Homo sapiens: one gene and its partners. The protein of the gene in region 1 interacts with the protein of each later gene in a biochemical or structural test. Each region holds a gene or a part of one and is shown on either strand. Other genes may lie near its edges.

Evidence for each region.
Region 2: the proteins of UBE2G1 (region 1) and MARCHF6 form a complex in vitro, tested with the Homo sapiens proteins (one study listed by BioGRID).
Region 3: the proteins of UBE2G1 (region 1) and TRIM2 form a complex in vitro, tested with the Homo sapiens proteins (one study listed by BioGRID).

The regions. Positions count from the first base shown.
Region 1 is NC_000017.11:4,298,393-4,309,511, forward strand, and holds part of UBE2G1 (ubiquitin-conjugating enzyme E2 G1), read right to left. Parts: intron 8,732-11,119; coding exon 8,629-8,731; intron 1-8,628. UniProt on the Homo sapiens protein: Accepts ubiquitin from the E1 complex and catalyzes its covalent attachment to other proteins. In vitro catalyzes 'Lys-48'-, as well as 'Lys-63'-linked polyubiquitination. May be involved in degradation of muscle-specific proteins.
Region 2 is NC_000005.10:10,356,141-10,367,259, forward strand, and holds part of MARCHF6 (E3 ubiquitin-protein ligase MARCHF6), read left to right. Parts: intron 1-11,119. UniProt on the Homo sapiens protein: Endoplasmic reticulum membrane-associated E3 ubiquitin ligase that plays a critical role in mitigating endoplasmic reticulum stress, the regulation of cholesterol and lipid homeostasis, and ferroptosis.
Region 3 is NC_000004.12:153,268,095-153,279,213, reverse strand, and holds part of TRIM2 (tripartite motif-containing protein 2), read right to left. Parts: intron 8,880-11,119; coding exon 8,695-8,879; intron 3,322-8,694; coding exon 3,084-3,321; coding exon of another isoform or gene 3,045-3,083; exon of another isoform or gene 2,946-3,044; intron 1-2,945. UniProt on the Homo sapiens protein: UBE2D1-dependent E3 ubiquitin-protein ligase that mediates the ubiquitination of NEFL and of phosphorylated BCL2L11. Plays a neuroprotective function. May play a role in neuronal rapid ischemic tolerance.

The DNA of each region.
Region 1 (11,119 bases):
ACATCAATACATAACAATAGTTAACTAACAATAGTTAGTGTTACGAGATCTTTTACTCTCTGCTCTTTTTAATATAGCTTGAACTGTTCACAAGCAAGTATGAATTTTTATTGCTTTTTCTGATCATAAGACATGGGGAAGGTGCAGATTAAGTTTAAAAAAAGAGACAGATCATTAACACCAAACATTTCTGAATAATTAGGAAATGCCACAGGACTCAGAGTATAAAGTCAGTGACCTTGATAATACAATTTTTTTAGTAAAAAGCAATAGGAAAAAAAGCTGTAAAGGGTTAAAGAACAGGGTAGTAAAGTACTTAAGCATAATAAACAGGACAATTTATACAAAAAATTTAACAGTTGAAGATAGTAACTAGATGGGGAAACTGTACAAAACAAGCGCTTTAAAAGAGATATTCGAAGAAATGTAGAAATGAAGTAAGGCCCACCATAGCGCCTTACTTTTCACAACTGATGAGGTTATCTATTGAAAGGAAGAAGCATGAGGGCTTGAGGGAATAGAGACTGGAATAGCTGTTGTGAAGAGTGCATTACACCAAAAAGAGTTAAGTCTTTATCTACTGATCCTGTTGCTCTGTGTAAGTTAGTGCCAAAATGGGTCTTAGGATATACTGATTACATGGACTAGTTTTTCAAACAGGGCTGCAAAAGCAATTTAATGAGTCACTATCAAAGTTTTTTTGTTAACAAAAATAGAAAACAGAGTTTATCACAAGTAGTTTCAGTTATATAATCTATGTATGTGTTTTATTCACTAATCTATATATACATATGTATGCACTGCGTCATGATGTAAAGTATTTCTAATTATGGGTTTGAAAGCCACAATTACAGAAAACAGCCAAACATGGTGGCGTGCACCTGTAATCCCAGCTACTTGGGAGGCTGAGGTAGGAGAATTGTTGGAACCTGGGAGGTGGAGGGTGCAGTGAGCCAAGATTGTGCCACTGCACTCCAGCGTGGGTGCCAGAGTGAGACTCTGTCTCAACAACAACAAAAAAAGAGTCAATGTAAAAGGACATCAAAGCCACTGCCACAAAGCCCCTGCACTTGATTCTACTGGCAGCCACTTGCCACTTGATTCCTTGACAACATTAAGTCAGCTTTCCCACGTCACTTACTTTTGATTGGTTACATTCACTAAAAAGCTTCATAATAGCTGACTGGAATCCTCATCATGAAAAACTGACTTAGACCCTCTAAATTGTTTTCAATCTCTAAAATGTCAACCAAATTCAACTAAAAGAGTAGCCCTAAAAATTTAAAGCACACAATTTTCACTCTATCTGAAAATGGCCTTGCCCACTCTGAAGCAACCATAGCATTTCTGAGTTTTTCTCCTATCTGTGGACCCCTCTTCTTCTATTTTACCTGTGGAAATTCTACCTGCCCCTCCCCTCTTTTCCTTTTTTTAGTTTTTTTTTTTTTTTTGGAGATGGAGTCTTGCTCTGTCGCCCAGGCTGGAGTGCAGTGGCGTGATCTCGGCTCACTGCAAGCTCTGCCTCCCGGGTTGAAGAGATTCTCCTGCCTCAGCCTCCCAAGTACCTAGGATTACAAGCGCACACCACCACGTCCCGCTAATTTTTGTATCTTTAGTAGAGACGGGGTTTCACTATGTTGGCCAGGCTGGTCTTGAACTCCTGACCTTCTGAGCCACCGCACCTGGCCTACCTGCTTTTTTTTTTTGATGCTTAACTAACTAGTACCCAACTTGTGCGTGCAAACTTCTACCGAGCAGCCAAGTTAGCAAAGAGAAAGCCCAAAACCCATAGAGTAGAATAACACTGTAGACTACACATTAACATGTCACATATCCACTATTTTTCAAATATAGAAAGATGTGACTGTGGCCAGGCAAGGTGGCTCACGCCTGTAATCCCAGCACTTTGGGAGGCTGAGGCGGGCGGATCACTTGAGGTCAGGAGTTCGAAAACAACCTGACCAATATGGTGAAACGCCGTCTCTACTAAAAATGCAAAAATTAGCCAGGCGTGGTGGCAGGTGCCTGTAATCCCATCTACTCAGGAGGCTGAAGCAGGAGAATGGCTTGAGCCTGGGAGGCAGAGGTTGCAATGAGCCAAGATTGTGCCACTGCACTCCAGCCTGGGCCACAAAGCAAGACTCTGTCTCCAAAAATAATAATAATAAATAAATAAATAAAATAAAATTTAAAAAGGCACCAATTAATTCAAAATATCTTTCATTACATATTATCTTCATCACAGATGCTATAGTATAAGTACTATCATGATATTAAAAAGAGGTATGTAGGCCGGGCACGGTGGCTCACACCTGTAATCCCAGCACTTTGGGAGGCTGAGGCGGGTAGATCATGAGGTCAGGAGTTCAAGACCAGCATGGCCGAGATGGTGAAATCCCATCTCTACTAAAAACTACAAAAATTAGCCAGGCATGGTGACAGGTGCCCATAATCCCAGCTACTCAGGAAGCTGAGGTAGGAGAATCACTTGAACCCAGGCGGCGGAGGTTGCAGTGAGCAACAGAGTCAGACTCTGTTTTCAAACAAAAAAAAAAGAGAGAGAGAGATATGTAACCAGCAGTTTCACATTTGAAAGTGTTTAAAAACCCAGGCCTAGTTCAATTTTTTTCCATGAGGCCTCCATTACTGTTTTTGAGTTAAATTATAAAAATCTTACAAGGATCAAATCCTACCATACTGCCATATTTATTTTATGTAAATAATGTGCTGTATGCTGCCGTCTGCAATTTGCTCAACATTGTTCTATTAATCTATAGTCCTGTTGTAGCTGTCTCTTGTCCATTCATTCTATCCGCCACAGTTCACTATTATTCTATGATAGTCAGAATCACATAGTCATGTGATCACTGACTTGGCTGTGCTCCGTGGGCACTGCTTTTCTGCCAGGTCCTGGAGTTGTCACCCCTTTTGCCTCTCAGCCTCCCACGGGCGCAATGGAGGAGAAGGATGAGAAAGCATGGGTGCTGCTGGCCCTTCTGTGGCCTCCAGTCACCTGGCTATGACTTTTGATGCTGTTATTGATGTGTTTCCTTGGCTTCAGCAGCTATTTTTGCTATAATAATCCTGCTGCCCTTCAGACTCAGGATAAACGGAACAGGCAGGTGAACACCATGAAATTCATGCTGCTATATGCCTGGTATTCTTGGCCCAATGTAGTTTTGTGTTTCTTTGGTGGCTTTTTAAAAGACCGAGTATTTGGAATATGATGGGGCACAATTACTTTTAGCTGTTTTATTTGCACTGGACAGGTTGTTTTGTTCTGGGTGGAATATTTAATGTTTTTTGGCTGATGGAATTTGAAAGACTTGTGTTTGGATTGGTGGGGAGTGCTCAGCAGTTGCCCAGGACATATGCTGTCAGCTGGTTTAAAGACAAAGAATTAAACCTGGTGTCTGGACTCCAACAATTTAGCATGGCTAGAATTGGAAGTACGGTAAACATGAACTTCGTGAGTTGGCTGTATTCTAAGATTGAAGCTTCGTGGGGTTCTGCTGGTCACACAACCCCTGGGGTCACACTTAAGATTGGGGGTATAAAATGTATTCTTTCACTAATCTGTGCCTTCCTTGGCTCTTGCTTACTTAGATGCGAGAGCAGAGAGAATCCTTCATAAAGAACAACAACAACAAAAAAAGGGGGGGGAAGTTTTTACATTAACTGATGTAAAGGATTTCTCCTTACCCCTGTGGCTCATATTTATCATCTGTGTCTGCTATTGTGTTGCCATGTTCCCTTTTATTGGACTTGGGAAAGTTTTCTTTACAGACAAATTTGGATTTTCTTTCCAGGCAGCAAGTGCAATGAACAGTGTTGTATATGTCGTTATCAGCTCCCACACCCCAGTATTTGGGCTCCCAGTGGATGACACGGGGAAGAACAGCATCTGGGTTCTGCGTGTGGTTGCAGCCACTCTTGTGTCCCACATGATGCTGGCCTTTATGATGTGGAGCCCTTGGGTTGCTGTGTCTTCTGGGAATCTCCTATTCATCGCTTGCCTGTGCATTTTGGCCAACAGTGGCATCTGTAGTTCCTGAACATCAACTGGGAACTGCATATGGCTTCACGCACTCCATTCAGAATCTTGGGGTGGCCATCATTTCCATCACTGCTGGGATGGATGATACTGGACACTGGGGGATATTTGTTTTTAGAAGTTTTCTTCATTGCCTGTGATTCTATGTGACTTTTATCTGTGGTCTTACTCTATTTTGTGAATCATGCCCAGGGTGAGAACCTAAATTATTCCACAAGACAAAGGGAAGAAATAAAATTTTCCCATACTTAATAAGTTTAAATGACTGTGTCATGAGAATGGGCTTTTGCACATCACTGGTTTGAAAATCTCCATTTTTAAAAATTTAGAGTTTAGTCATGAGAAAAAAAATAATGGAATGGCAAGTTGTATTTATATCCAAATACACCTATTTCAAAGTGTATTTGTGAGAACTATTTTAGCCTGTGTCTTCTGTATTGTGTGTTGCTGAAGAATTCTACAAAAGGCCAACCAACAATGAAAGGTTTAGAAAACTGCTCTGGAACATCCAGGTGAACTTCAGAAAAGAACAGTGAAAACAGAAAAACACAGGAGCTTCTTTTGAGATTGTCTTCATTAAGTATGTGTCTAAGGGATACAGCCTTTTCTTTATCTTACAGCAGAAAAAAAAAAAATTGTGACAGACATTCCCTTTCCTGGTAGGGGCATAATGCTAGAAGACATGTGAAGATATTTGTATGAAGTCTCTTTCTACTCACAACCAGTAGCTTGGGCTCTACTATGTGGTTATGTGGACTGCTGAGCAGTGACCCTTCTGAGTTGATTTTTCTGTTACTGAGTCCCCTAATCTCTTAGGGACACAAATTATAGTACAAACAGTCTGTACAGTTTTTCATATAGTCTAATTAGTAACTACAAAGTGTCCTTCGAATTATAATTGACATTTACAAAAATAAATAATAAAACTGCAAAAGGGGAAAAAATAATTTTTTTTTTGCTATTATAAGCAATAGAACATGGAACATTTGAAACATTTCCTAAGCATAGGGTTTTTACCCTAGAAATGAAACTGCTAAGACCAAATTTAAGTAATTGTTCAAAGTCACTCAACTAAGAAGAGTGGTAGAGTTAGAGAGCTAACCAAAGGCAGTCCCCAAAGTCCATGTTCTTGAACACTACGTGATAAACCGCATGGCATTACCACTGATCATTCCATTTCCAAGCAATGTAGGCACTAGGTTCATTCCCTCCAGAACTTCATTACAGAAGAGATGGCTTCTGCCTCTATGTCTCACACAGGACTGGAAAATAATTTATAACTGGAATAGAATTTTGCAACTGTAAAAGAATGTAATTCAGAGTTTTGGTTAACTGATTCTTCATTTTCTATATCTACCCAAGGCAATACTACAAAACACATAATCTTAAGATTCTCCAGATTTTTCATATCATTGCCAGTGCTTAAAAACAAAATAAATAAATAAGACATACTCCTTGAACAGACCAGCCACTGGTGATGAAAGGAAAAGAGAGATAAAAGTTATACAGTCATCATTCATTAATAATTTATAAAATGTTATAATGATACAGTGATATCCAGGTTTCTTAGACTTTCTGGTTTTGTTTGTTTGTTTAAGACAGGGTCTAGCTCTGTTGCCCAAGCTAGAGTGCAGTAGCGTAATCTTGGCTCACTGCAGCCTCCACCTCCTGGGCTCAGCCTCCTGACTGCAGGCATGCATCACCATGCTTGACTTATTTTTGTATTTTTTTTTGTAGAGACAGGGTTTTGCCATGTAGCCGAAGCTGGTCTCCAACGTCTGAGCTCAAGCGATCCACCCTTGGCCTCCCAAAGTGTAGGGATTATAGACGTGAGCCACTGTATCCACCCTAAACTTCCGTACTACAAACCTATTGCCACTTCTACCTGAAATTTTAATTTCTGTGGATATGAGTGGTTATCCATACTGTTTGATAATCAGTCTGAAAACAGTTGGTATACCACACCAGTTTCAGAATGTACATTTCATAGAAAGGCCTTAGGGACTACTGCACTGGAAAGACTCATTAATAAAAATAAAAATGTAATGCTATATAAATATGAGTATGACTGAATTAAGACTTGTGGCAACTATAGGAGTCTCAAAGTAATCCTTGAACGGTACCGGTTATCAATCACATAGACTGAAAAGAGAGTGGAGCGCCCTCTAGTGACTACATGAGGGCTAATGATGGCACAGAGAGATAATCACAGCAGCTTTTACAGAATTTTGGTACAGTATTTCTATTATCTAATTATAAAGTGGTGAATTAATCACTTAGGTCTGGGTACCATCTGAGCCTATACTAATTTATTTTCAATCCTATAACACCCCTCCCCCCAGCACAAGCCTCTACTTCCCTTCACAGGCAGTTATTTAAACGTAAGGTGTATATATTCACTTCCAATAGTGCTCTTCAAACAATTCCAAGATGGCCTCTACTCTCTCCATTCCACTGAAATAATTACAAGAACCTCACTACTTTCTGCTAAGAAGTTTTTTAAGAACTTTTTTTTTTTTTTTTTTAGATAGAGTTCTGCTCTTGTTGCCCAGGCTGGAGTGGGTGACACGATCCCGGCTCACTGCAACCTCTGCCTCCTGGATTCAAGCGATTCTCCTGCCTCAGCCTCCCGAGTAGCTGGGATTACAGGCATATGCCACCTCACCTGGCTAAATTTTTTGTATTTTTAGTAGAGACAGGGTTTCTCCATGTTGGTCAGGCTGGTCTCCAACTCTCGACCTCAGGTGATCCTGCCCACCTCGGCCTCGTGAGCCACTACGCCCGGCCGACAACAAATATTTTTTAAGCATTCTATGAAGTACATGGTTCTTGGTAGCATTCTAAAAGGCTTACTTCTAACAAACCTTTCTTCATTCCCCTGTACCTTCCTTTGCCTTTCTCAGGTCCTGCCCTAGGAATATGCTCTCTCTTTCCTGAGCAAAGGCTAGTGATCTCAGGAAGGCACAGTCCAGAAGTGACCACCAGTATTCTCAGCAGCATATACACACTCCAGCAGAGCTGCCAGAAATATTGCTGTGATTCACATCTCAATTCAACAGCCAACACTTTTAAAAATGTACACCAAAGACCAGAGACGGTTTTGTTTTCTTTTTTGAGACGGAGTCTCGCTCTGTCACCAGGCTGGAGTGCAGTAGCGTAATTTTGGCTCACTGCAACCTCCACCTCCCGGATTCAAGCGATTCTCCTGCCTCAGCCTCCTGAGCAGCTGGGACTACAGGCGCCCGCCACCATGCCCAGCTAATTTTTGTATTTTTAGTAGAGACAGGGTTTCACCATGTTGGCCAGGCTGGTCTTGAACTCCTGACCACAGGTGATCCACACGCCTCAGCCTCCCAAAGTGCTGGGATTACAGGCGTGAGCCAACGCACCAAGCCAGCAGATGCATCTTACAAAACAATACATACTAGTAAATTTAAGTTAGTCTGCAAACACTCAGAGCAGAAAAGAAGACTGTGGTCTTTGCATCTAGAAATGTACGACATGAAATATTTTTAAACTCTATTTCTCTTCTTCTACTGCTCTTTCACACCACTACATTGTTGTCTATCCTTAAGCCATTGGTTTAACAATTAATAGTCAGTTAATAGATTATCATAGAGCATAACAATAACTTTCAATAAACTAGGAGAAAGTGACCATTAGTTTAGTTTGGGATAAGAACACCTAGATTCTAACCAGTATTCGGTGGGGACTCAAGTAGAGAACCATGAAAAGAGACGATCTTGAAAGTTCTCCTTAGCCTTCTTAAAACACTGATGTGTGTAATACATTCTCAATTAAAATGTCCAAAAATTATATAACTCTTCTGCCTCCTGAGTTCAAGTGATTCTCCTGCCTCAGCCTCCCGGGTAGCTGGGATTACAGGCATGCCACCATGCCCAGCTAATTTTCGTATTCTTAGTAGAGATGGGGTTTCACCATGTTGGCCAAGCTGGTATCAAACTCCTGACCTCTCAGGTGATCCACCCACCTCAGCCTCCTAAAGTGCTGGGATTGCAGGCATGAGCCACCGCGCCCGGCCTGAAACTATTATTTTTAATAGCAATAGGTCTTAGACATTAGAGCTTCAAGCAAAACACAAAAACTCTTCCATGATCAAATTCAGTACAAAGGATATTGAATACAGCCATTTCTCCTGCTCCTTAAAAAATAATTTCATGTCAGTTTGCCAAAATATTTGTGGTTTTGCTTTGTTTTGTTTTGAGATGGAGTCTCACTCTGTCACCCAGGCTGGAGTGCAATGGCGTGGTCTCAGCTCACTGCAATCTCTGCCTCCTGAGTTCAAGTGATTCTCCTGCCTCAGCCTCCTGAGTAGCTGGGACTACAGGTGCATGCCACCACACCCAGCTAATTTTTGTATTTTTAGTAGAGATGGGGTTTCACTACATTGGCCAGGCTGGTCTCGAACTCCTGACCTCATGATCGGCCCGCCTTGGCCTCCCAAAGTGCTGGGATTACAGGTGTGAGCCACCGTGCCCAGCCTGCCAAAATAGTTTTTAATTCAGTGTATTAAAAGAGCTCCATTTTGAAGATGTCAGTTCCATTATACTTACTAAAGTGTATCTGGAGGGCCAATAATAAGGACTTCCCATCGGTAGAGATCATTGTCATCTATTAAACCTGCAGAAAAGCCTTCCACTGGATTTTTGTTGAGTTCTGTGGAAAAAGAAAAGTTTAATCAATACATTTAAGCACATAATTTGCATCCAGTAGATAAATTACAGAACTTGAGCGTACATGTTTTATGTAAGTTTTAAACCATTAAATAGATATACCTTGCCAGGCAAAATGCTACTTGATGGCCAAAACATTTTCATGCCTATACTGTAAGAAAGCCCTGGGTAAAGCAAACTATCCAGAAGATCAACTTCTACTGGTATCCAGCCAGGCTCTTGTCATTCTAAGTGGCCCTACAGTGGTCTTTTAAGGAAGCTTGTTAAAATGCAGATATCCAGGCCCGTCCCCCAGAGATTCTCATTGAGAGGGAGCCCTGGAAATCAAATCATGTTGGCAATTCTTATGCTGCTGTCTTCAGGGTATACTTTCAGAGTGTCTAATCATACCTTTTCATTGGAATGTACTGCGCTTAATAACTTTCATTTATACTAACATTTGTACACCTATTTGACTTGTCCCTGTAGTCTTGGGGACCTGCTTCTACAGTGGGTGCTCCTGTGTGCCCATCCATCTCTGAGCACAAGGAGAGCAGGGGCCCCATATGTCTTGTCTGTATATGTCGACCCTCTGAGAGCCACAGCTTCTGGGACAGAGGAGCAGCTTAAGAGTAACACCTGGAGCATACAGAATGGCTGCAGCATCGTGAGGTTCTCCTCCTCTAAAGAGAGTGCTGTGGCATGGAGAAAGGATGACAGGGTGGGAAACAAGAGAGGCGAGGAACTGGCAAGGTGGGGGCACACAGGCCAAGACAGGGACCTTAAGGAGCAGGTGAGCAGCGGTACAGAGCCCAGAATGTTTCCAGAGACACCAGACTTAATAAAGTACTGGCCTCCTGATGGTGAGCAGATCATGTGAGAAATTTTTAAACAACTTTAATGAGGTATAACTGACATTCAGTGAACTGCACATACTTAAATTATACAATTTGGCCGGGCGTGGTGGCTCACACCTGTAATCCCAGCACTTTGGGAGGCCGAGGCAGGTGGACCACCTGAGGTCGAGAGTTTGAGACCAGACTGACCAACATGGAGAAACGCCGTCTCTATTAAAAATACAAAATTAGCTGGGCGTAGTGGCACATGCCTGTAATCCCAGTTACTCGGGAGGCTGAGGCAGAAAAACTGATTGAACCCAGGAGGCAGAGGTTGTGGTGAGCCAAGATCGCGCCATTGCACTCCAGCCCGGGCAACAAGGGCAAAACTCTGTCTCAAAAAATATATAAATAAATAAATTAGCTGGGCATGGTGGTGTGTGCCTGTAATCCCAGTTACTCAGAAGGCTAAGGCAGGAGAACTGCTTGAACCCGGGAGGCAAATGTTGCATCAAGCCAAGATCACGCCATTGCACTCCAGCCTGGGTAACAGAGCAAGACTCCATCTCAAAAAGAAAAAAAACACACACACACAATTTAATAAGTACTGATATACACCAGAGGAACCAACACAACAACAATCACAATAGTGAATGCATGTATCAATCACCCACACAATTATCACATTTTACCGGCCAGTGGAACTGAGTACTCATTGGCTCAAATTGGAAAGTGTGGACAAAGAACACACAGGAGTAGAGTGGTTTGAAAAGGACTTGCTGGGAGTCTCAACAGGTGTGTAATTCTCGTATACTACCTGCCATCATTCTCAGGCAGCTTTGTCTAATGATGAAAGGCAGTATAATATAACTCAGAGTGCTACAAAGGACTGAACCAATGTTTAGGTAACTGAGGAGATATTAATTTTTGGGGAAATCAAGAGATGGTATTATTTCAACAACTACGATTTAACAACATGCCAGCAAAATAGGAGAAAGCCAATAGTGAAAATTTATATTTAGGCAGGGCGTGGTGGCTCACACCTGTAATCTCAACGCTTTCAGGAAGCCAAGATGGGTGGATCACTTGAGGTCAGGAGTTCAAGACCAGCCTGGCCAACATGGTGAAACCCTGTCTTTAGTAAAAATACAAAAATTGGCCGGGCATGGAGGCGGACATCTGTAATCCCAGCTACTCAGAAGGCTGAGACAGGAGGATCACTTGAACTGGAAGGCAGAGGCTGCAGTGAGCCAAGACCATGCCACTGTATTCCAGCCTGGGTGACAATGCGAGACTCCGTCTCAAAAATAAAAATAAAAAATTTATGTTTAAACATGAAGTGCTTCTTTTCTTGAAATGTGAGGGGAGATTTTTATAAGTCTAACATTTTTGCATAACAGGCAAACTAGACTTTTACAAATAGTTAAAATCAGCTCTGTATTTCAAAACACAAGAAATGTACTTTTACTTTAAAGTGGCTAATCTAAAATACTTTTTAAAGATATTGAAAGTGCAAACACATTAAGAAGGGAACAGCATTTTCACTGTTATTTTGT
Region 2 (11,119 bases), on another chromosome or scaffold:
AAAAACTAATAAAAAATGTTCTATTTGTGAAATCAGTTATTATAGGTTATTTCTTTAAAAAATGCGACTTAGGTTTTTTAAATCTGCTTAGAAATTTTTTGGTAGGAGATATTCAAAGTATGGCCAAACATAAAACTAAATTAAAAAAAAATCAGTATCACCTACTTTTGAAAACACTTATACTGTTGTGGTTCTGTTTTTTATTTATTTTATTTTATTTTATTTTATTTTATTTTATTTTATTTTATTTTATTTTATTTTATTTTATTTTCCGAGATGGAGTCTTGCCCTGTTGCCCAGGCTGAAGTGCAGTGGCATGATCTCTGCTCACTGCAACCTCCACCTCCCAGGTTCAAGCGATTCTCCTGTCTCAGCCTCCTGAGTAGCTGGGATTACAGGAGCGCGCCACCTCCCTCTGCTAATTTTTGTGTTTTTAGTAGAGATGGGGTTTCGCCATGTTGGCCAGACTGGTCTCAAACTCCTGACCTCAGGTGATCTGTCCGCCTCAACCTCCCAAAATGCTGGGATTACGAGCGTGAGCTACCGTTCCTGGCCGGTTCTCTGTCCTTTAAAAATATATTTTAATATTCTGAGCAAAGAGATTAAGAATGTTACAAACACATCAACCGTGCGTATAGTAAGTCTTCCCTTCCTTTTAAAAATAGCACATTGCTTGCCTCTGATGGTACCATATATGATAGTCTGATGCTCAGAATGTTATGCATTTGTAGTAATACTTAGTTCCGACATGGCTGTTTCATACTAATTGTTTGCTAGATTTTAAAGATCTCTAAAGTTTCTTCAGTATTAAATTAATTTTTGTAAAATCAACAGGTTTATAATCCATTCTCATAATACAGGGATGGATAAATCATTCTTACTGTGTATATGTTATTTGTATGAGTGCAGATGTGTTATGTCAACTGCTATCCATCCTGACATTTTTAAACTTCAGAGCTATAGGAGACCTTAGACATTTGCCCTCCTCATTTTATGGGTTAGGAGTCCGATCCTGTAATGCACTGAGATTTCTCAGTTTCAGAGAAAAGTCTATCCTTTGGTCAAGGATATACTTTTTTTTTTTTTTTTTTAAAGGAAAAGCAGTACAATATTGGAATAGATGTTGCAAGTGTTGATGTGCAGTTCTCAAAGATAATATTAAACATTTTGTCATAGAATGCCCACATTTCGGCTCAGTGATATAAAGCTGAGGTTTTTTTTTTTTTCTTTTCCATTTTGCTAAATTACTGCTTGTATTAGCACAACATAATACAAAGTCTTAGTAATTTTATTACAGAATACCAAAGCAGCTGTTCTTTATGCTTTACGGAACATATTCATTCGAAAAGTGTGAAGCTAAAGAGTATTATGGTTGATCATGTTCTATATCACTATGGCAAAAATTTGAGGTAACTTAAATTTGGAAGAAATGAGTTAAAAGGATAGAAAGTTGTCAGAATCAGACAGCTAGTTCCTCTCTTTCTAGACCCACACAGTCTTCTTTGTTTCCAGAGATGTCTGCTGCATGTTTCTTACCACGCATTACCTTTCACTGTTTTGGCATGCTTGTGACCAAGTGTACATGCATTTATTCGTTAAATGTTTACTGAGGACCTGTTATGAGCCAGGCACTATTCTATGCATTTGGGCTAGGCAAGGAACAATATAGAGAAAATCCTTTCTTTCATAGAGCTTACATTATAGTTATTAGCTTAAGACAAAATAAACATGTAAATTATATGGCATAACTAGAAGGTTATAAACGCTGTGGAGAACAGTGAATTGGGAGGGAATAAGAAGTGCCAGGATATGAGGGCATGGGTTGCTTTTTTTTTTTTTTTTTTTGAGACGGAGTCTTGCTCTGTCACCCAGGCTGGAGTGCAGTGGCGCGATCTTGGCTCACTAGGGGTCGCAGTTTTAAATATAGCAGTAAAGGAAGGCCTCACTGAGAAGGAGCAAAGGAGAAGGAGTTAGCCATGCAGATACTCTGGGCAGAGCATTCCAGGCAGAGGGAACATAGCCTATGTGAAGTGTCTAAGATGGGAGCATGCCTAGAGTGTTCAATAAATCACCAGGAGAGCAGTGTAGCTGTAACGGAGTAAAAGAGTTGGAGAAGAGTAAGTATAATATGAGGTCAGAAAGATATGGAGCCAATGGGGAGAGAGCATGTAGGACTTCATTGACTTTTATAGTGAGATAGGGAGCTATGGGAGGGTTTTGAGCTGACGTGAGACATAAATTGTCTTGATATGCAGCCAGCTTTCTGTATTTGTGGGTTTCGCATCTGTGGATTCATCCAATGTCAGATGGAAAATACTTGGAAAAAAATAGATGATTACCTCTGTACTGAACATGTACAGCCTTTTTTTCTTGTCATTATTCCTCAAACAATACAGTATGATGACTACATAACATTTATGTTATAATTATTCTAAGTAATCTAGAGATAATTTAAAGTACAGTTGACTCTTGAACAACATGGGTTTTTGAACTACATGGGTCCACTTACACATGGATTTTTTTCTTCAATAAATATATTGAAAAAAATTTTGGAGATTTGCAGCAATTTGAAAAAACTTGCAGATGAACTGTGTAGTCTAGAAATAGTGAGAAAGTTAAAAAGTTATGTCATTAATGCATAAAATATATGTAGATACTAGTCTTTTACTCACTATCATAAAATATATACAAATCTGTCATGAAATGTTAAAATTTATCAAAACTTACACACACAAACATGTAATGGAGACTGTACATGGCACCATTCACAGTTGAGAGATGTAAAGAAACTTAAAGATACAGTATTAAATCATAACTGCATGAAATTAACCGTAGTGCATACTGTGCTACTGTAATAATTTTGTGGCCACCTTCCGTTGCTGTTGTTGTGAGCTCAAGTGTTGCTGTTGTTGGAGCTCATCTCTCCAGTAAATTGTATATGGTAAAAAGTATCTCTCTGGATTCTCTTGTATTTTTCATTGCATTTAGTGCAGTACCCTAAACTTTGAATAACATGATGGGATCCATATGAGGTGCCACTAAGTGATGCTGGAAGTGCTCCAGGAAGCTGAAAAAAGGCATGACATTATGAAGAAAAAGTCGAATTGCTTCATATGTGCCATAGATTGAGGTTTGTAGCTGTGGTTGCTGGCCATTTCAGAATGATTTATCTTGTAAACAGACAGGTATCAATAAATATGGTACAGTGCTGTAAATGTAATTTCCTTCTGATTTTCTTAATTTTTTTCTCTAGCTTTATTGTAAAAATAAAGTATATAATATAGAATACAGTATATAATATTACAATACATATTGTAAGAATGCAGCATATAATACAGTACGCAATACATATAATACAGTTTATGCATTCATGGCATAATTTTATTTTTTTTGCTCCTTCTAAGCTACACAGTTCATCTTTTTTTAAATTGTTGTGAATTTCCAAAAAATTCTCCAATATATTTATTGAAGAAAGAAATCCGCGTATAAGTGGACCCATGTAGTTCAAACTGTGATGTTCACAGATCTGTACTTTAAATAATCTCCTGAGTACTCATAATACCTAGTATAATGTAATACAAAGGCTGGGTGCGGTGGCTCACGCCTGTAATCCCAGCACTTTCGGAGGCGGTGGCAGGCAGATCACCTGAGGTCAGGAGTTCGAGACCAGCCTGGACAACATGGCGAAACCCTGTCTCTACTAAAAATAGAAAAAATTAGCTGGATGTGGTGGCGGGTGCCTGTAATCCCAGCTCCTTGGGAGGCTGAGACAGGAGAATGGCGTGAACGTGGGAGGCGGAGCTTGCAGTCAGCCGAGATCGCGCCACTGCACTCCAGCCTGGGCAACAGAGCAAGACTCCGTCTCAAAAAAAAAGTAGTACAATATGTGTATTAATCTACTGTTTATGTTGTATTATGTTATGGGAAGGCTTCTGGTCACCAGTAGGCTGTTAGTAGTTTTCCATTAGTAGTTTTTCGGGAGTCAAAAGTTGTATGTGTGTGTGTTTTTTTTTTTTTTTTTTTTTTGAGACAGAGTTTTGCTCTTTTTGCCCAGGCTAGAGTACAGTGGCACCATCTCAGCTCATTGCAACCTCCGCCTCCCAGGTTCAAGCGATTCTCCTGCCTCAGCCTCCCGAGTAGCTGGGATTACAGGCATGCACCACCATGCCTGGCTAATTTTGTATTTTTCGTAGAGATGGGGTTTCATCATATTGGCTTGAACTCCTGACCTCAGGTGATCCATCTGCCTCAGCCTCCCAAAGTGCTGGGATTATAGGCGTGAGCCACCGCGCCCGGCTGTATGTGGATTTTTGATTGTGCAGGAGGTCGGTGCCCCTAACTCTTGTTCAGGGGACTCCTGTATATGGAAGGATGTGCATAGGTTACTTGGAAATACTATGCTGTTTTACATAAGGGACTTGAGCATCTGTGGATTTTGGCACCTGTGGACTTCCTGAAACCAATCCCCCAGGGTTACTGAGTCTATCTCTTTCCTGGTTAAGACAAGTTTTTGTTTGTCTTAAATTCAAATTTCTGGAAGCTACAATCTCACTGGCTCATCTTGGGTCAGTTGCTTATCCTTTTGATCCAGGTAGCTGGGTGGTGGTGGGAAAGGTAATGGAAGAATAAGAATCATGACTGGCTGTGTCCATTCTTGAGCTGGTAAGACAGTGCAAAAGAGATCTGCTATATTGCTCAATTAGAATACTTTTTAGACTGAAGCCCTGTGAGTGATTATTGCTGGGCTATCCTCTTCCAGATGCCTACTTCCCATTTCTTCCAGGCCAGGCTTACTTTAGTGGGTTTTACTTCTGTCCTGTAAGACTATGAAGATCACTTATTTTTAGTATAATACAGTTAGAACAGAAAGAGTTCTTGAAAAGTGAATAGGAAGTAAGAACCCCCCAAGGGAAAACTTAATAATTCAGACTATATTTTAGAATGCTGTTGCAGTAGGCTAGATGAGATATAGGAGTTACATTAAGGTAGAGGGAATGGAAAGAATGGAAAAGAAGAAATAGACCAAGGTAGAATTAATAGAACATAGTAATTGAAGAGGTAATATAAGGAGGAGGAGTTAAAAATGATTGATTTTTATATTATTTCAAATGGGAATGGAAAGAGATAAGTAGTTCAGTTTTAGATATTGTTTTAGTTTGCAGGGGCTGCTGTAACAAAGTACTACAGATTGGGTGCTTAAGAGAAATTTGTTTTCTCAACTCTGGAGGCTAGAAGTTTGAGATGAAGGTGTTGGTAGGCCTGGTTTCTTCTGAGGTCTCTCTCCTTGGCTTGTAGATGATTGTCTTCTGTGTCTTCATGTAGTCTTCTCTCTGTATGTCTTCATGTAGTTGTCCCTCTATGTCCTAATCTCTTCTTTTTTTAAAGACGCTAGTCATATTGGATTAGGGCCTACTCTAAGGACCTCATTTTAACTTAATTACCTCTTTAAAGATCCTGTCTCCAAATATAGTTACATTGTGTATACATGCAGGTTAGGGCTTCAACACGTGAATTACGGGGGGAGGGGCAGTGCAATTCAGCCCATGATAGACATGAATTCTTGAAGGCTTGGAAGACTGAAGCATTCCCTGTACACTTATTTTTTATAACTTAACTTCATTATAATATCTTTTTTTTTTTGAGACGGAGTTTAGCTCTTGTTGCCTAGGCTGCAGTGCAATGGCGCGATCTCGGCTCATGGCAACCTCCGCCTCCTGGATTCAAGGGATTCTCCTGCCTCAGCCTCCCGAGTAGCTGGGATTACAGGCATGCACCACCACACCTGGCTAATTTTGTATTTTTAGTAGAGATGGGGTTTCTCCATGTTGGTCAGGCTGGTCTTGAACTCCTGACCTCAGGTGATCCGCCCACCTCGGCCTCCCAAAGTGCTGGGATTACAGGTGTGAGCCACTGTGCCTGGCTGTAATACACTTTTTACTTTCCTGTCTCTCTCCTTCCCTTCTGTCACCTCTTAATGTATTCTGTAAAGATGGAATCAGGTTAATAAAGTATAATTTACACACAAATTTACCCTGTTTAGGGTGCAGTTCTGTTATAACACTTTTGAAATAGAATATTGGAGATTCCATGTCTTTTTTGATTACTTCCCCATTTACCAAATATTGGGTACATGTCTACTACGTATCTAGGACCTGTGCAACAATGTTTTCTGCATGTTTCATTTCTTCATTCCAAGTCCTTGAAAAGTGCCAAGAGGCATTTCTATTGAATGGAACAGTTTGAAGAGCATTGATGTAGCTAGAGTAGTGGTTTTCAAAGCTTTGTCCCAAGACCCCTTTACATTCTTAAAATTGAGGACCCAAAGGACTTTTGTTTATGTGGGTTTTATATGTAAAGATAGATATTTACCATATTAGAAATGAAGAATGAATACAAATTATTTAGAATATTTAAAAGTAACAATAAACTCAATATATGTTAATAAAAATAACGTTATCTGGATTATTATAAGACAATTGGATTCTCATCTCTCCCTTTGCAGTCACTTTGTTAAGTGTTTTGGTTAGTGTATATAAAAACTCGGCATCACACAGATTTATAGCTTGAAAAGGGATGAATATTTTCAGATGTTTGTATGTTCTTTGATACTATGTCAAAACTTGACAAGTGGTAGTTTCTTAACGTATCTGAAAACATGGCAGTCACCTTAAAAAATTAAATTAACTGTTAAATTAAAATCCATTTGTCTGGTAGTGTAGGATAGAGTCCAGAAATAGATCCACACATACATGGACAGTTGATTTTTGGACAGAAGTGCAAAAGCAATTGCATAAAATATAAAGGATATCGTTTTTCAACAAATGGCACTGGAATAGTTGAATAGCTGTAGGAAAAAAAAAAGAACTTTGAGCTATAGCTTGTACCATATACCAAAATTAACTCAAAGGGCTGTTAGACCTCAATGAAAAACCTAAAACTATGAAACTTCTAGGGGAAAATATAGGAGAAATTCTTCGGAATCTTGGGTTAGACCAAGATCTCTTAGGTATGACTCCAAAAGCATGATCCATAAAAGAAGTGGATAAATCAGATGGCATCAAAATTCAGAATTTCTTTCAAAATTAGAAAGACACTTAACAGAATGAAGACAGGATACAGAAGATGTATCTTATAAGGGGCTTGGAGTATATAAAAAATTCTCAGAACTCAGTAATAAGAAAACAATAACTCAGTTTTTAAAATGGTCCAAAGATTTGTATAGACACTTCACTAAAAAATACATGTACATGGCTATTAAGCATATGCAAATATGCTAAGCATCATTAGTCAAAACCATAATGAGACACCACTTCACACCTGCTAGGATGGCTATAATCAGAAAGAACAGGTAAGTGTTGGTGAGCATTGTAGAAAAATTGGAACCTTCATTTGTTACGCTAGGAATGTAAGATAGTGTGACTGATTTTGGTAATTCCTCAAAAAGATAAGCTGAGTAACCATATGACCCAGAAATTTCATATACCCAAGAGAATTCAAAAAATATATTCACACAAAAACCTGTATATGAGTTAGCAGTATTATTTATAATAGCCAAATAGAAACAACCCAGTGTCCATCAACTGATGAGTAGATAAATGTGATCTATTTGTAAAATAGAATATTACCCAGCAGTTCAAAGGAATTAAGTACTGATGCATGGTACAACTTGGATAAATCTCATAAACATTAGGATAAGTGAAATAAGCCAGTCACAAAAGAACATATTTTCTATGATCCTATTTGTGTGAAATGTCCAGAATAGGCAAATCTATATATAGAGAAATTAGTGGTTGTCTGGAACTGGGGAGAGCAGATGGAGTAGGAAGTATCCACTAATAGTTACAGGGTTTCCTTTTGGGATGATGATAATGTTCTAAAAGATTATGGTGATGGTTGCGTAACTGTAAATATACTTAAAACAATTGAAGTCTTTAAATTGGTGAACTTTATGACATATATCTGAATAAAATTGTTAATTAAAACTACTGTGAGATATCATTACATACCTATTAGTGTGGCTAAAATGGTAATAGAATGACTGACCGTACCAAGTGTTTGTAAGGAGGTAGAGCAGTTGGAATTTTCATATACTGCTGGTGGGAGTGTAAAGTGGTACACCACTTCTTCTGGGGAGCAGAAAGCAACCTTCCGGGTACAGGTGAGCCAAGGTTGATGGGCAGTTATGCAGAGGGAGTTGGGATATCACTGTGTGTACCTGTGCAAGTCCTGGAGTGTGTTGGGTCCTCATCAGCAGGGCTGTATGAAGGTGTTCATTAAAACAAAACTACTGATAGTGTGGCAGGAGCTAGAAAACACCCCTTTCTTCTTAGATATCCCTCCAGCACCCTCTACTGGCAAAGTTTAACTGCCCCTAGCCAAAAGAAAAGAAAAGAAAAGCTTAGCATCCCTATCACTGAACAGGGACTGAAAGGGAGAATTTGGAGTTGAGAAGGGGATACATGGATAACTAGCTCATTACTGCTGAAATTGTTGGAATCATTCATTGCCTGTGCTGCTGAAGCTTGATGTTGCCCACAGCTGTTGGGCAGAATCTCCACCATGACTTGCGTATCTGTTAGCAGGAGTCTGCAGTACCTGCCATTAGCTGCAACTGCTGGTTTTTAGAAACAAGTAGAAAATGGTTTCGCTGTTTCTCTGCTTCTTCTTTATTTTTATTTTTGAGATGGAGTTTCGCTCTTGTCGCCCAGGCTGGAGTGCAATGGTGCGATCTTGGCTGACTGCAACCTCTGCCACCCAGGTTCAAGCGATTCTCCTGCCTCAGCCTCCTGAGTAGCTGGGATTACAAGCACATGCCACCACGCCCGGCTAATTTTGTATTTTTAGTAGAGACGGGGTTTCACCATGTTGGCCAAGCTGGTCTTGAACTCCTGACCTCAGTTGATCTACCCACCTCAGCCTCCCAAAGTGCTGAGATTACAGGTGTGAGCCACTGCACCCAGCCTCCCTGCTTCTTCTGATCTCACAGAAGTGCTTCTCATTGACAGACTCTAACTTAAGCCTAGTTGGCAAGGAGGCCAGAAAGTGCAGTTTTCAGGCTTCCAGGAGCAACAGTACAGGTGAATTTTTAATTTAGTAACGATAGTAATCTGGTGAGCTAAAATAAGTAAACTTTGGGGTACATAGAGAATTGGAATTATTATTATTATTATTATTTTTGAGACAGAGTTTCGCTCTTGTTGCCCAGGCTGGAGTACAATGGCACGATCTTGGCTCACCGCAACCTCCGCCTCCCGGGTTCAAGCGATTCTCCTGCCTCAGCCTCCCGAGTAGCTGGGATTACAGGCATATGCCACCACACCTGGCTAATTTTGTATTTTTAGTAGAGGTGGGGTTTCTCCATGTTGGTCAGGTTGGTCATGAACTGCCGACCTCAGGTGATCCGCCCACCTCAGCCTCCTGGGATTACAGGCGTGAGCCACTGCACCTGGCCGAGAATTGGAATTTTTAAACTGTGTTTGCAAGGCCTAATTCCCAAACCCACATAGTTTGTGTATGGGTATACGCTCACCCTCAAAAAGGAAATATTTTTTGTAAAATTTGAGCAGTTAAACATTTTTTTCTGCCTGTAATTGTAAAAGTAGCAATTAAACACTATCTACTTGGGGACGAGAAAGGAAGAAAAATTACCCATGTTCTCGTCTGACCAATTACAGTGGCTGTCTTTTTTTTGCATTTTCTTCTTTAGGCTATGGTGTTTTTACCTAGTTGGAAGTAAGGGAGTGTGGTCATTTAAAAATGTTATATCTCTTTCCATATTAGCAAATAGTTATATATACATATATATACTTTTTTTTTGTTTTTTGGTCTGTTGCCCAGGCTGGAATGCAGTCACGCAATTTCGGTTCACTGCAACCTCCGCCTCCTGGGTTGAAATGATTCTTGTACCTCAGCCTCCTGAGTAGCTGGGATTATAGGCGTGTGCTGCCATACCTGGCTAGTTTTTGTATTTTTAGTAGAGATGGGTTTCGCCATGTTGGCCAGGCTGGTTTCGAACTTCTGGACTCAAGTGATCCATCTTGCCAAAGTGCTGGGATTACAGGCATGAGCCACTGCGCCCAGCCTTGTATTTGCTATTTTTAAGGGACTGTATACATTCCATATAGTGAATGTGCACCATTTATATAGCCGCTTCCCTATTTTGGGCTATATAGGTTATCTGCAGACATTTTGAGTAATATTTTTAATATATTTTCAAAATTGTCTACTATAATTGTAGCTACTAATTGTAAAAATTTTATTGATAATTACATATTAAACATTCCTTGTTTACTTCAGCCAGATGAACAAGGTCAACATTAACAGTTACATGTGGCATAGTGCCACGGTTATTACTTGAGACTGTCACTATGACAGTTACTGCTGTTACTACTTGAGACCGTCATTATGAGACTGAGTGAAGGGGGACAAATGTAGAAATGAAAAATTAAGACAAAAGAAACTTTTAAAGGAAGAAAAAAGGGGAAGAAAAAGAGGGCTCCCTGCTTCTAGGGAGCAAAGGCAGCAGCCTAGCTTCCACAGCCCTTAGAATTTATTGGGTAGAAAGAGCAGGGGGGAGGTGATAATGACTGGTCAGCTGCTTAATTGATCACACGTTCATATTATTACGAACAGGCTTCAGATGTACCTAATCACAAGAAACTGAGCTTGGGGCGTGACTGCCTTCAGCATTCCTTCTGGGTGGCATAGGCAGTTTGTCAGTTTGCCAACATTCTGCGTTTATGAGAACAGTTTGCTGTTCACTCTTATAGCCTCCAGTGGTATACTGAGTTGATCACGACCCTCAGTCTTTCGGCCTCCAACAGTTACAAATCATGTTGATGGCATATCCCTTGATATGATATGATATGATATAAGATGCCACTTCATGTGATTTTTTTCCTTCCCAAAACCCATAGCCCCAGTCTATTCATGAATCATGCAATTTCCAGTAAACAGACATTCTACAGTGTACCTGACCAGTACTCCTTAAAATTGTCAAGGTCGTCAGAAACAAGGAAAATCTGAGAGACTGCCCGAGCCCAGAGGAGCCCAAGGAGACATGACAACTAAATATATGTAGATCCTAGAACAGAAAAGGGACGTTAGGTAAAGACTAAGG
Region 3 (11,119 bases), on another chromosome or scaffold:
TCTTTTCTCTGAAATTCACGCTGTCTTCCCCAGGCCCATTGATGCCATTCTAGTTCCATCTCTTATCTCTCATTTGGACAATTCAGTAAACTCATAATTGGTTTCCCAGCCTTTAGTGTCTGCCACCCCATTCCTCCAAAATGTCAATAAAATACCTATCTCCTGTTCAGAAGGCTTTGATGCTTTTGCAATTTAAGAAATTGACGTCAAACATGTTCTTAATGATATTCACAGCTCATCCCAATCTCTCCACATCTATCTTTTCAGGCCCACCTGTGTCCCACCCTCAACTCCGCTGTCTCCATGTTCTAGCCGCTTCCTTGAGCTATAAGCTGTTGCCTGAATTTCATGACATTCTCACTTTACTTATGGAGGTAACATTTATTTTTTTTTTCTTAATTTTTTTTTTTTTTTTTGAGATAGAGTCTTGCTCTGTCACCTGGGTTGGAGCGCAGAGGCGCAATCATGGCTCACTGAAGCCTCAATGTCTGGACCCACAGGATCCTCCTACCTCAGCCTCTGAACAGCTGGGACTACAGGTGCAGCCCCATCATGCCCAGCTGATTTTTGTATTTTTGGTAGAGGTGGGATTTCGCCATGTTGCCCAGTCAGGTCTCAAACTCCTGGGCTCAAGCGATTGGCTTGCCTCAGCCTCCCAAAGTGCTGGGATTACAGGCATGAGCCACCATGTCTGGCCCTTAGAAACATTAGGAGACCTACTATAGACACTGGTGTAAATTTGGGATATGAAGGGGCTGTCATGTAGAATGAGAAATAATGACAGTTAGAAATATTAGCTTGGCTGGGCACAGTGGCGCATACCTGTAATTTCAGCACTTTGGGAGGCCAAGGCAGGTGAATCACTTGGGACCAGGAGTTTGAGACCAGTCTTGGCAACATAGTGAGACCCTGTCTCTACAGAAAATACAAAAATTAGCTGGGCGTGGTGGCATGCACCTGTAGTCCCAGATACTGGGGCAGAGGACAGGACTGAGGTGGAAAGATCGCTTAAGCCAGGAGGTCGAGGCTTCAGTGAGCCATGATCGTGCCACTGCACTCCAGCCTGGATGACAGATTGAGACTCTGTCTCAGAAACAAAAACAAAAACTAAAAAACCCATAAAAAATAAAACAACCTAATGTTTCTAAGACTTTACTCCTCTATCAAGTCACGTCTCCAGAGAGCCTCATTTTAAGGGGCACTCTTACACCTGATAGAAATACCTTCCCATAACTAGTATTTAGAGTGCAAGCTCCAGGCATAGACAGCCTCAGCATTCACTAAGCACCAGTGTGAGAAGTGGTCATGAGGAAAATACTCAACCTGCTTTCAAAAGCAGCATTTAAAAGTTCTTTTTACAAAATTTAGATGATCAATTTCCCTTGGCATAAAATGCATGGAAAACTGATAGCTATTAATAGCCTGGTGTGCTTTCAATTAAATTATTACAGATGTGTAAGCCATGGTGTCCTTCTCTTGTTTTGGCTACCAGAAAGCTCAGGATGCTATTTCTTCCAGGGCTAGCTTTTACAATGTGCCCAGCAAGCTTTGTGACTTAAACTGTTTCAGCCTCAGTTTCTTCATCTTATAAAGTGAAAGTAACCAACAACTACTTTGCAGAGGGGGGTTTAAGGAGCCAAATACGGTGTCTGGCAAATTTGTTCAACAAATATTTATTGACTTCTATGTATAAGACACTGCCCTCAGTGCTAGGGGTCTAATGACAGGTCCTTGCCCTCCCAGAGCTCACATTCTAGAGGGAAAGCCAGGACTAATAAGTACACAAATACACAGCTGATGGCAAGCAGACCACAGTGAGCACCAGGGAGGAAAGAAAGCAGGGACATGATGGAGGGTAACCAGCTGTAAGAGGCAACCTGTGTTAGACGGTACAGGTGGAGAAGACTGCTGTGTGCAGGAGAAATTTGCAGTGAGACTTCAAGGAAGAGAATAAGCTCGCCACATAAAGAGGAAACAAAGAGCAACCCAGGCAGAAGGAACAGAACAGCCAGGCCCCGAGGAGGGAAACCATTTGGCAGGTTCTAGGAGGCTGGTGAGGCTCCAGCACAGTGTGCAGAGAGAATGCTGGGAGATGAGGTAAACAAACAGTAGTGTGGCTAATAAGAATTGCTTTGCTCTAATGATTGCTTGCTTGTCTTAGTGGTTTTGTTATACCTGGGCCTTTTGTTTTAAGCAGTTTCAAATACTTTTGAAGTGACCAATATACAAATGAGATGAATATAAAGTAATTAATGAAAAAATGTTAAAGCTGACATTTATCAAGATCCTACTATATGATTTACATGACTTGAACATTTAATTCTTCCAATATTCTATATGGTAAATACTATTATTACTTTTTTTTAACTGATAAAGAAATGAGACGCAGAGAGTTTAATAAACTTACCAAAGCTGGCACAGGGAATAAGTTTAAGAGCAGGATTTGAATCAGGCAGCCTGACTCCAAAGCCAATGTCCTTAGACGCTACACAATGCTGCCTCTTCAGGTTACATAGCTATTGTGAATCAGTTACTTGATGGTACCCACAGGTCCTCCTGAGCTTCTAACAGTTATTGTACTCACTAGTAGCAAGAAATATGTTTGGAATTCATAATCTATAATCTACTATCAGGGATTCACATAGCTTCAAATTCTATCTATTAATAAGGAATAAGGTCTAATGTAGCATGAGAAAATTTCCCTCCCAAGAAAAATAAAGAACTCTAATTAACATTTTAATAATCATTCTCAACTTACAGAACTTATCCATTGTTAAATCCGTATCCATAAATTTATTACACAGATGTTTATGTAGGTCAGCTTGCAAATAGCTACTGGTTTGCTGTCCTGGGGATACCAACAATATGTGTGAAGGAGACACAGTGGAGATTGATTTCGTTATTTAAATAGTTCTGGTCAAAGAAAGTGAGCAGGTAGTCTGAGGGCTGGTAAAAATCTTTTTTAATTACTGATTTTTCCACATGGAGTTCTGTTTCAATCTGTAATCTCTGATGTACCCAAAGCCTCCCCAAGGCCACAGTAGTCATGCTCCCGGGCAGTATCTGCCATCCCAGCCACTTACATTCCCATCGTGGTTTGGGCAAGAGAGAGGCTTTCCCGCAGCCACAGCAGTGACTGTCTCCAGGATGGAAGACTCCTCAGCGTTGCTGCCTGGAGTTCGCTGCAGCACGTCCATCAGGTTTGTGATGAAGAAATTGTTCTGGAGCGCGGCCACCCCTTTCTCGGGCAGGATGGAGGTCTGGCGGCACACTGGGCAGGAGAGGGTTAAACTGTGGGCAGGAATGTAGTTCTGCAGGCACCTGTTGCAGAAGCAGAGGTGGAGAGCTTAGCACAGTGCAGAACCTCCACTTCTCACAGGTACCATACATGTTCTCAGTGACTACACAAGGTATTTGGCAGAAACTCCCATCCCAGTCTCCTTTACTAGGAAAATAATATTTCAGAAACCAACAGGTAAGCTGTACTCACACTAATGAGGCAAATGATTATGCTCAAGGAAATAAAAAATGTCATTGACTTTTGTAGTGTTTTCTAGTGCCTTGGCACACAAAGTGTGGTCCATGGATGAGCAGCGTCAGCCTCCCTGGGGGGTGCATTTGGTAGAAATGCAGAATCTTAGACCCTATCGAACACCTGCTGAGTCAGCTCCCCATGTGATTTGCATACATGTTAAAGTTTGAGAAGCACTGGCCCACAATATCTAGCAGTGGGCTCATAAATGTGTGGACTTTGAAATTGAAAGAAACACATCAAATATTTTTGTTAGCAATAAAATTCTTCTTACGTACAAAATCATAATGAGATATAAAAAACACATCAAAGTGGAAATATTTGCTTGAAGCAAGAATGGGACACCCAGAGTCAGAGCCACACCATCTCTTCTCCTTGTCTCTACTCAACAGGTATCAACTTAACTCATTTAGTTAAAGAAGTGTGTCACTAATAATGACTCACACATATGCTGCTCATTGAATTCAAAGTACTTCCAATGAGCCTATGAGATAGGTACTGTTATGATTCCTTGAGACACGTGATGCAACAGACAGAGACAGGCCAGCGTACTTGTCCAAGATACTTAGCTGGTCAGGAGCAGAGTACAAAGTACAAATTCAAACACAGGCAGTTTGGCACCATAATCTAAGCTCTCAATAATTAGACTATACAATTTTTTCCAGTACCTAGCCAAACAATTCAAAACACACCAACCTAGCCCCATTCCCCTTATTTTGCAGATGAATAGACCTGACATCAGAGACATTCACTGATCTTGTCTATGTCACAGAGGTAGCTAGCCCTGAACCAATACCAGACATGAAACAGCTTTTGCTAAGGTCATTAACGACGTCTGAATCCAGCAGATGTTTTTCAATTTTATCTTACTAGACTTCTGGGAAGTATCATTAAGCTTGATTATTGCTCTGCTCACCTTCCTTTTTATTGAAAAATTTCTCTTCCCTTGACTTTATGACACCACACTCACATGGTTCTCCTGTCTGCTCTGTCTTTTCTGAGTCAATACAGTTTTGAGTTAATCAAGGTTCCATTCATCATGAGACCTCTTCTCTTTCTGGAATATTATATTCATATCACAGGTGTGGCTACAAGCATCAGGCTCCCAAAATTATATTTCTTCCCACAGACATCTCCTTTGAGCCTCATTAACTGACCTGTTGACATCTTTTCTTAGATGTCTTGCAGGTCCTAAAACTCAACATGAACAAAACCAAACCCATTATCTGAACCCCAGACTGTATCCTCTCCCATTCCTGATGAATAGCACCTCCATCCATTTATTTAAACAAACCAGAAACTAGGAGTCATTCTTAAAACAGTAACTCCCTTACTGTCCTTCATTTTCCATATCCAACCCATCACCAAAGCATGTCCAAATGCCTACATATCTTTCTAACCTCTCCAGTTCTCTTCATGCCCTGCTATATAACCATCCTTGTACCCTCTAACAATTATCCACATTGCAACCAGAGTGACCTTCTCAAAACTCAAAGAGAGCCATTTAAATCTCCCTCCCACACCATCTGAGATGAAAGCCATGCCATGGTTTCCACTTCCACTGCTCTTACAACAAAGACAAAAATCCATATATGGCAACATGGATTACACATCTCATATGGCCTAGCACCTACATACTTTCTGTCTCTTCCCCTCATTTGCTGCATACCAGCCACAGTGGACTTATTTAAGTTCTTCCTCAGTGTTGAATAACCCTCTCACTGTAGCACCTCTCACTCACTATAGCAACCTCCCACTATAGCACCTTTGCACATACCTGAAATTCTATTCACTCCCCTTTGTTTAGTTAATTTTTACTCATCATTGGGGTTTCTGCGTAATCATCACTTCTGCAAGGAAGCCTTCCCAGATTAGGGCAAATTCCTCTATTATATTGTTTCCTGTATACTTCTGGTGTACAGCACTTGTCACTGGTTTAATTTCACATTAGTCTGAGCAATTAGGGGGTTAGTGACTGGCTCCTCCACTAGGCTGTGAGTTCCAAGGGGCCAGCAGCTATGTCTGGCTTTGCTCTCCTTCAAGCCTTTTGATGCTGTTTTGGAAGATGTGGGATAAGAGTGACTGTAAGGGCTGGGCGTGGTGGCTCACGCCTGTAATGCCAGCACTCTGGGAGGCCAAGGCGGGTGGATCACGAGGGCAGGAGATCGAGACCATCCTGGCTAACACGGTGAAACCCCGTTTCTACTAAAAATACAAAAAAAAAAAAAAAAAAAAAAAATTAGCCGGGCGTGGTGGCGGGCGCCTGTAGTCCCAGCTACTCGGGAGGCTGAGGCAGGAGAATGGCGTGAACCCGGGAGGTGGAGCTTGCAGTGAGCCGAGATCGCGCCACGGCACTCCAGCCCGGGCGGCAGAGCGAGACTCTGTCTCAAAAAAAAAAAAAAAAAAAAAAAGAGTGACTGTAAGGTGCTCACTGAGTAGCCAGTATGAATGTCCAGCAGAGGCTGAACATGGGGGTCCTAGAGCTCACTCTCCTGACAGTGAGACAAGCTGTAAAGTTTTGTCTCTGCATAAACAAAAATTTCCCCACCGGGCGCAGTGACTCATGCCTGTAATCCCTGCTCTTTGGGAGGCCGACATGGGCAGATCACGAGGTCAAGAGATCGAGACCATCCTGGCCAACATGGCGAAACCCCGTCTCTACTAAAAATACAAAAATTAGCTGGGCATAGTGGCGCATGCCTGTAGTCCCAGCTACTCGGGAGGCTGAGGCAGGAGAATCACTTAACCCAGGAGGCGGAAGTTGCGGTGAGCCGAGATAGCGCCACTGCACTCCAGCCTGGTGACAGAGCAAGACTCCGTCTCAAAAACAAACAAACAAACAAACAAACAAAAAACCCCATTTTAAGGAAAGTTGCCAGCACCTTCAACACCTTCAAACAGAAATCTTCTCGGCTGGACGCAGTGGCTCACGCCTGTAAGCCCAACACTTTGGGAGGCCAAGGTAGTTGGATTGCTTGCGCTCAGGAGTTTGAGACCAGCCTGGGCAACATGGAGAAACCCTGTCTCTATAGTCAGGCATGGTGGTGTGCACCTGTGGTCCCAACTACTCAAGAAGTTGAGGTGGGAAGATCTCTGGAGCCTGGGAAATTGAGGCTGCAGTGAACTGTGATTGTGCCACTGCACTCTAGACTGGGTGACAGAGTGAGATCCTGTCTCAAAATAAATAAATTAATAAATAATTAATAAAATAAAAAATAAAAGAAGAGGAAATCTGGCCAGGCGCAGTGGCTCACGCCTGTAATCCCAGCACTTTGGGAGGCCGAGCTGGGCAGATCATGAGGTCAGGAGATCAAGACCATTCTGGCTAACACAGTGAAACCTCGTCTCTACTAAAAATACAAAAAATTAGCTGGGCGTGGTGGCAGGCACCTGTAGTCCTAGCTACTCAGGAGGCTGAGGCAGGAGAATGGCGTGAATCCGGGAGGCAGAGCTTGCAGTGAGCTGAGTTTGCGCCACTGCACTCCAGCCTGGGCAACAGAGTGCGACTCCATCTCAAAATTAAAAATAAAATAAAAAAAGAAGAGGAAATCATCTCAACATGCATGAGGCTGGAACAATTTTAACACAGAGCATTGTGTAAGGACTTGCTGTAGCAGAATCTCACAAATCTCTACCACCAGCTATTGGGTGGGGAGTGGAAGTGGGTTGGGCTAGATCCCCAAAGAAGATAGCAGGGGCAGACCTAGGGCAGCCAGAGTGTTGCTTCTCACCTGTCAGAGTGAGGAAGTAGGACCCAAACAATAGATAGGCTGGACACTGAATACTGGGATATGGGGCAATTCTGCCAAGTTCAGACTGAGTGGCTCTGAATGCACTTCTATAGAGAGTATCAGCCAAGCTATGCCGACTGCTGCACATCAGGTAACGATCTTCCCATGTGTGCCCAGGGACACATGGACTATTAGCTGGTATTCATGTTTTAGGTGCACCCATTAAGGGGATGGAGGAATCACACTCTAATTATTTTGTAATATGAATTACCAAGCACTTAAGCCAAAGTATAAAATGAATAAAATAAAAAGTGCCCTATATACCACCACTAAAACAAACCAAAACCCATATACACAAGCACACGCACACACACAAAACCCCACAACAACCCAAAACAAACAAAAAAGCCACAACTACTAGTAACAAATCTACCTTCTCCTTCTATCCATCACCACCATGAAGGATATGGTTATTCTTTTGCAATTGAACCTTGCAAAGTAAATCAACTCAAAAAATGGTCAATCAGATAATAAAGACATGTTAAATCAGATATTTGTGTAATCAGCATAGATTTGAAGCCATTTGAAATACTGATTTCCAGTTCTATCACAGGAAGTAAAGCATTTTAAGTATGTATATTAAATAATGATAAAAATGTACTTAACAAAATGCTATAAAACACAATTACCATATTTATTTTTAAGAAAGATACATAACTTTACTAGGGAAATATTTATAAGTAAGATAAACTAATTACTAACAAACTTATGCTTAATTGCTTACATGGTAAGTTAAACAATGGGGTAAAAGTATATTTTGATAACTGATTAACGCCCCTCTCCAAAAACAAATACTCTATGAAGAAGATAAATAAGGAAGTCTGTTTTCACATACAGCAAATTACATAGTCAGGTAATTTATTTAATATATATTTTTTCTTTATCTAAAACATCATAGCATTCAAATGTGACATTAGTATGTGTCTGAAGAATCTTTGAAAAAGAAGCTATACCTTTTGAAGTAACAACTCATGTATGCAGATGTTTTACCTGATTTGTTATATGGGAGGAAATGATAGATTTTTTTAATTGACTCTGAAAGACCCTCTGTAGGGATCTGCTGTGGACAAAAATTGTTTCACAAAGAACAAAGGGAAGTTTTAAAAGATTTTTCAACTTAACATTCTTATTTAATGCTCCATCTCTTGTGTAAACGAATCAGTAGTTACTGGATTGCTTTCTCTTGCTTATAATGGTTTGAAATAAAGTAAATTATTTGCAACTCATGATTCTGTTTTTCAATGTCTGGCAGAAGCACAAGAGATTAGTTTTCTCTCAAAGGTAACTGTAGAATTCTGGGAAAGAATCCTGCAGTAGGTTGTAGGAGGTCAGCCTGCGAAACTCCCTTCTCCAAGCACAAAGGAGGCTTACCTCTCGCAGAAAGTGTGCAGACAGGGGAGAACCTTGGGATTCTTGTACCGTTCCAGGCATATACTGCAAATCAGAAACTGCTTGTCAATCTGGCGCACCACAGGACTTGGGATGTTGGTGCCTTCACTGGCCATCCTAGACCACTGACATGGGGGGCCGGCTGTCTTTGACCCTGCACGCTGCTGCTGTCAGACAGAAAATCAAAACAGAAAAACATATAATGATCTGTAGGTACAAGTCAATCACTGGCTCTTTCACCATAAGCATTGTGCTATAAGTAAAGGTAGAAGTCGGCCAGGTGTGGTGGCTCATGCCTGTAATCCCAGCACTTTGGGAGGCCGAGGTGGGCGGATCATGAGGTCAAGAGATCGAGACCCTCCTGGCTAACACAGTGAAACCCCGTCTCTACTAAAAATACAAAAAATTAGCCGGGTGTGGTGGCACACGCCTGTTGCCTCAGCTACTCAGGAGGCTGAGGCAGGAGAATCACCTGAACCCAGGAGGCAGAGGTTGCAGTGAGCTGAGATCGCGCCACTGCACTCCAGCCTGGGTGAGTGCAGTGAGACTCCATCTCAAAAAAATAAAAAATAAAATAAAAAATAAATAAATAAAGGTAGAAGTCAATGCCAGTGACCTCAAAATGACCAATAAGCCAACCCTTATTGCTGTACAAGTACAGTCAGCTCCCTGTTGTTTATTTTGTAAATCAATAAAATCCTCACATGTTCGCCAGGCAAACAAAACAAATTAAAAGAGGGCATGTTGTACAAAGAGGTATGCTCGCTGGGCTTCAAAGCAGTGGTAACTAAGGGGATAAATACTTTATATAGCTATGTCTGCTTATGCCTTTAGCCATGACTATATTTAAACATATATTTACCTTTCATATTCTTATTGAAATTGAATATGTTTTTCCAACTATCGTAGTTGAAGAGGTTGGACTGTGTCACATCAAAATATGTCACTTTGATATAAGGATTATTTTGAGCTGAAAGCTATATAGAAAGAACAGACAGAAAAGGACCTCTCTGCCCTTCCCCATCTGCCTAAAAGCAGAGCATAAATTTCTCTTTTGTAAAGGAAATTTCCATTTGTAAAGGTGCCTCTCTCTCCAGAGCCAGGAAGAGAAGTCTCTTAAACACTGAAGACTGCAAGGAGATGATCTTGCAAAATGATCTTACTAAACAAACCTTATCTACCATACATTTCCTACAATTTACTGCCCCAGGAGTCCAAACCCCTCTTTCTTTTGTCTAGGCAGTTCTCCGCAATATATTGTCCTTTGTCAAAATGGTATATAAAACCCAAAGAGGAGGTTGTGAAGCCCTTGATAATGTAAAATTAAAAATAGTATCAAAAAAAGTGTATGCCTTTTTCTCCCGTTAATCTGTCTTTTGTCACTTTAATTTATAGACCCTAGGCACATACTCTAGGAGGGCAGAAGAAAAGTTTTTCCTCCCCTACATGCTATTAATATGCATGGGGGTGAAAATTAGAATTTTAATTAAAGATTTTGTATATGGTTCAGAGTGTTTTCTTCAGGACTAAAGGTTTATAGATTTGAAACTAAAATATATTTGCTATGGGGTAGGGACAAAGGCTAGAGGTATTCCCTATAATTTAAAAGAAATATCTGTTGGTATTCATGTCTGGGCATTTGAAAGACCTGGTGAAGTGAATTAATTCAGAGAAGGTTTCAAAATGTTAGGGATCATGCCAGGAAAGGAGAATTAGAAGAGGGCAACACAGAAAGAGAAGACAGCAAAGAGTTTGAGAGCACAAGAGAGGAAAAAGTTACAACACAAAACACAGCTCCTTTTACCACCTTAAAGAATTCCTGGCTTCTACACCGAAGGCATAAACCAAGGCTGAGCTAAAATTTACCTCTTCATTTTCTAAATATTTGGTAAGGTGTCCAGAGCCCTCTAATTCCCTATGGAAATACTCTTTACCAAAAAGAAAATAAAAGACAGAGAGAAAGTGAAACTGCTTTTGCAAAAACTGTAACTGAGAAAATTATGGCAGTGAAAGAGATCAGACCTAACCGACTCCATCTTGTTTCTAACCTTTAAGCTGTCCTTGTTCATTCCCGGGCATAGGTTAAACTAACCTTGGGAAGGAATTGAGCTTATAGTTCGACTCTGAAAAAAATTGATAATGGCCCTTTTCCAAAAAGACCCCTTCTTGCCTAAGGACCAGTCTCCCTTTGTAGGACTAACAAATTAGCTACAAGATTAGAAATTAAGGTTTAGGGGCCATGCAGCCTCTGGCTGCAAGAGTCTGAACCTCCCTAAATTGCTCTTCGCGATAACAAAACTATTGTAAAACCAAAGATCAGTGCTTGAGATGTTTTGCAGAGCCTGCACTCAGTGGATCAGCTGACACCACCCAGACCGGTAATCTGGCTCAACAAGTTCCGTGATCC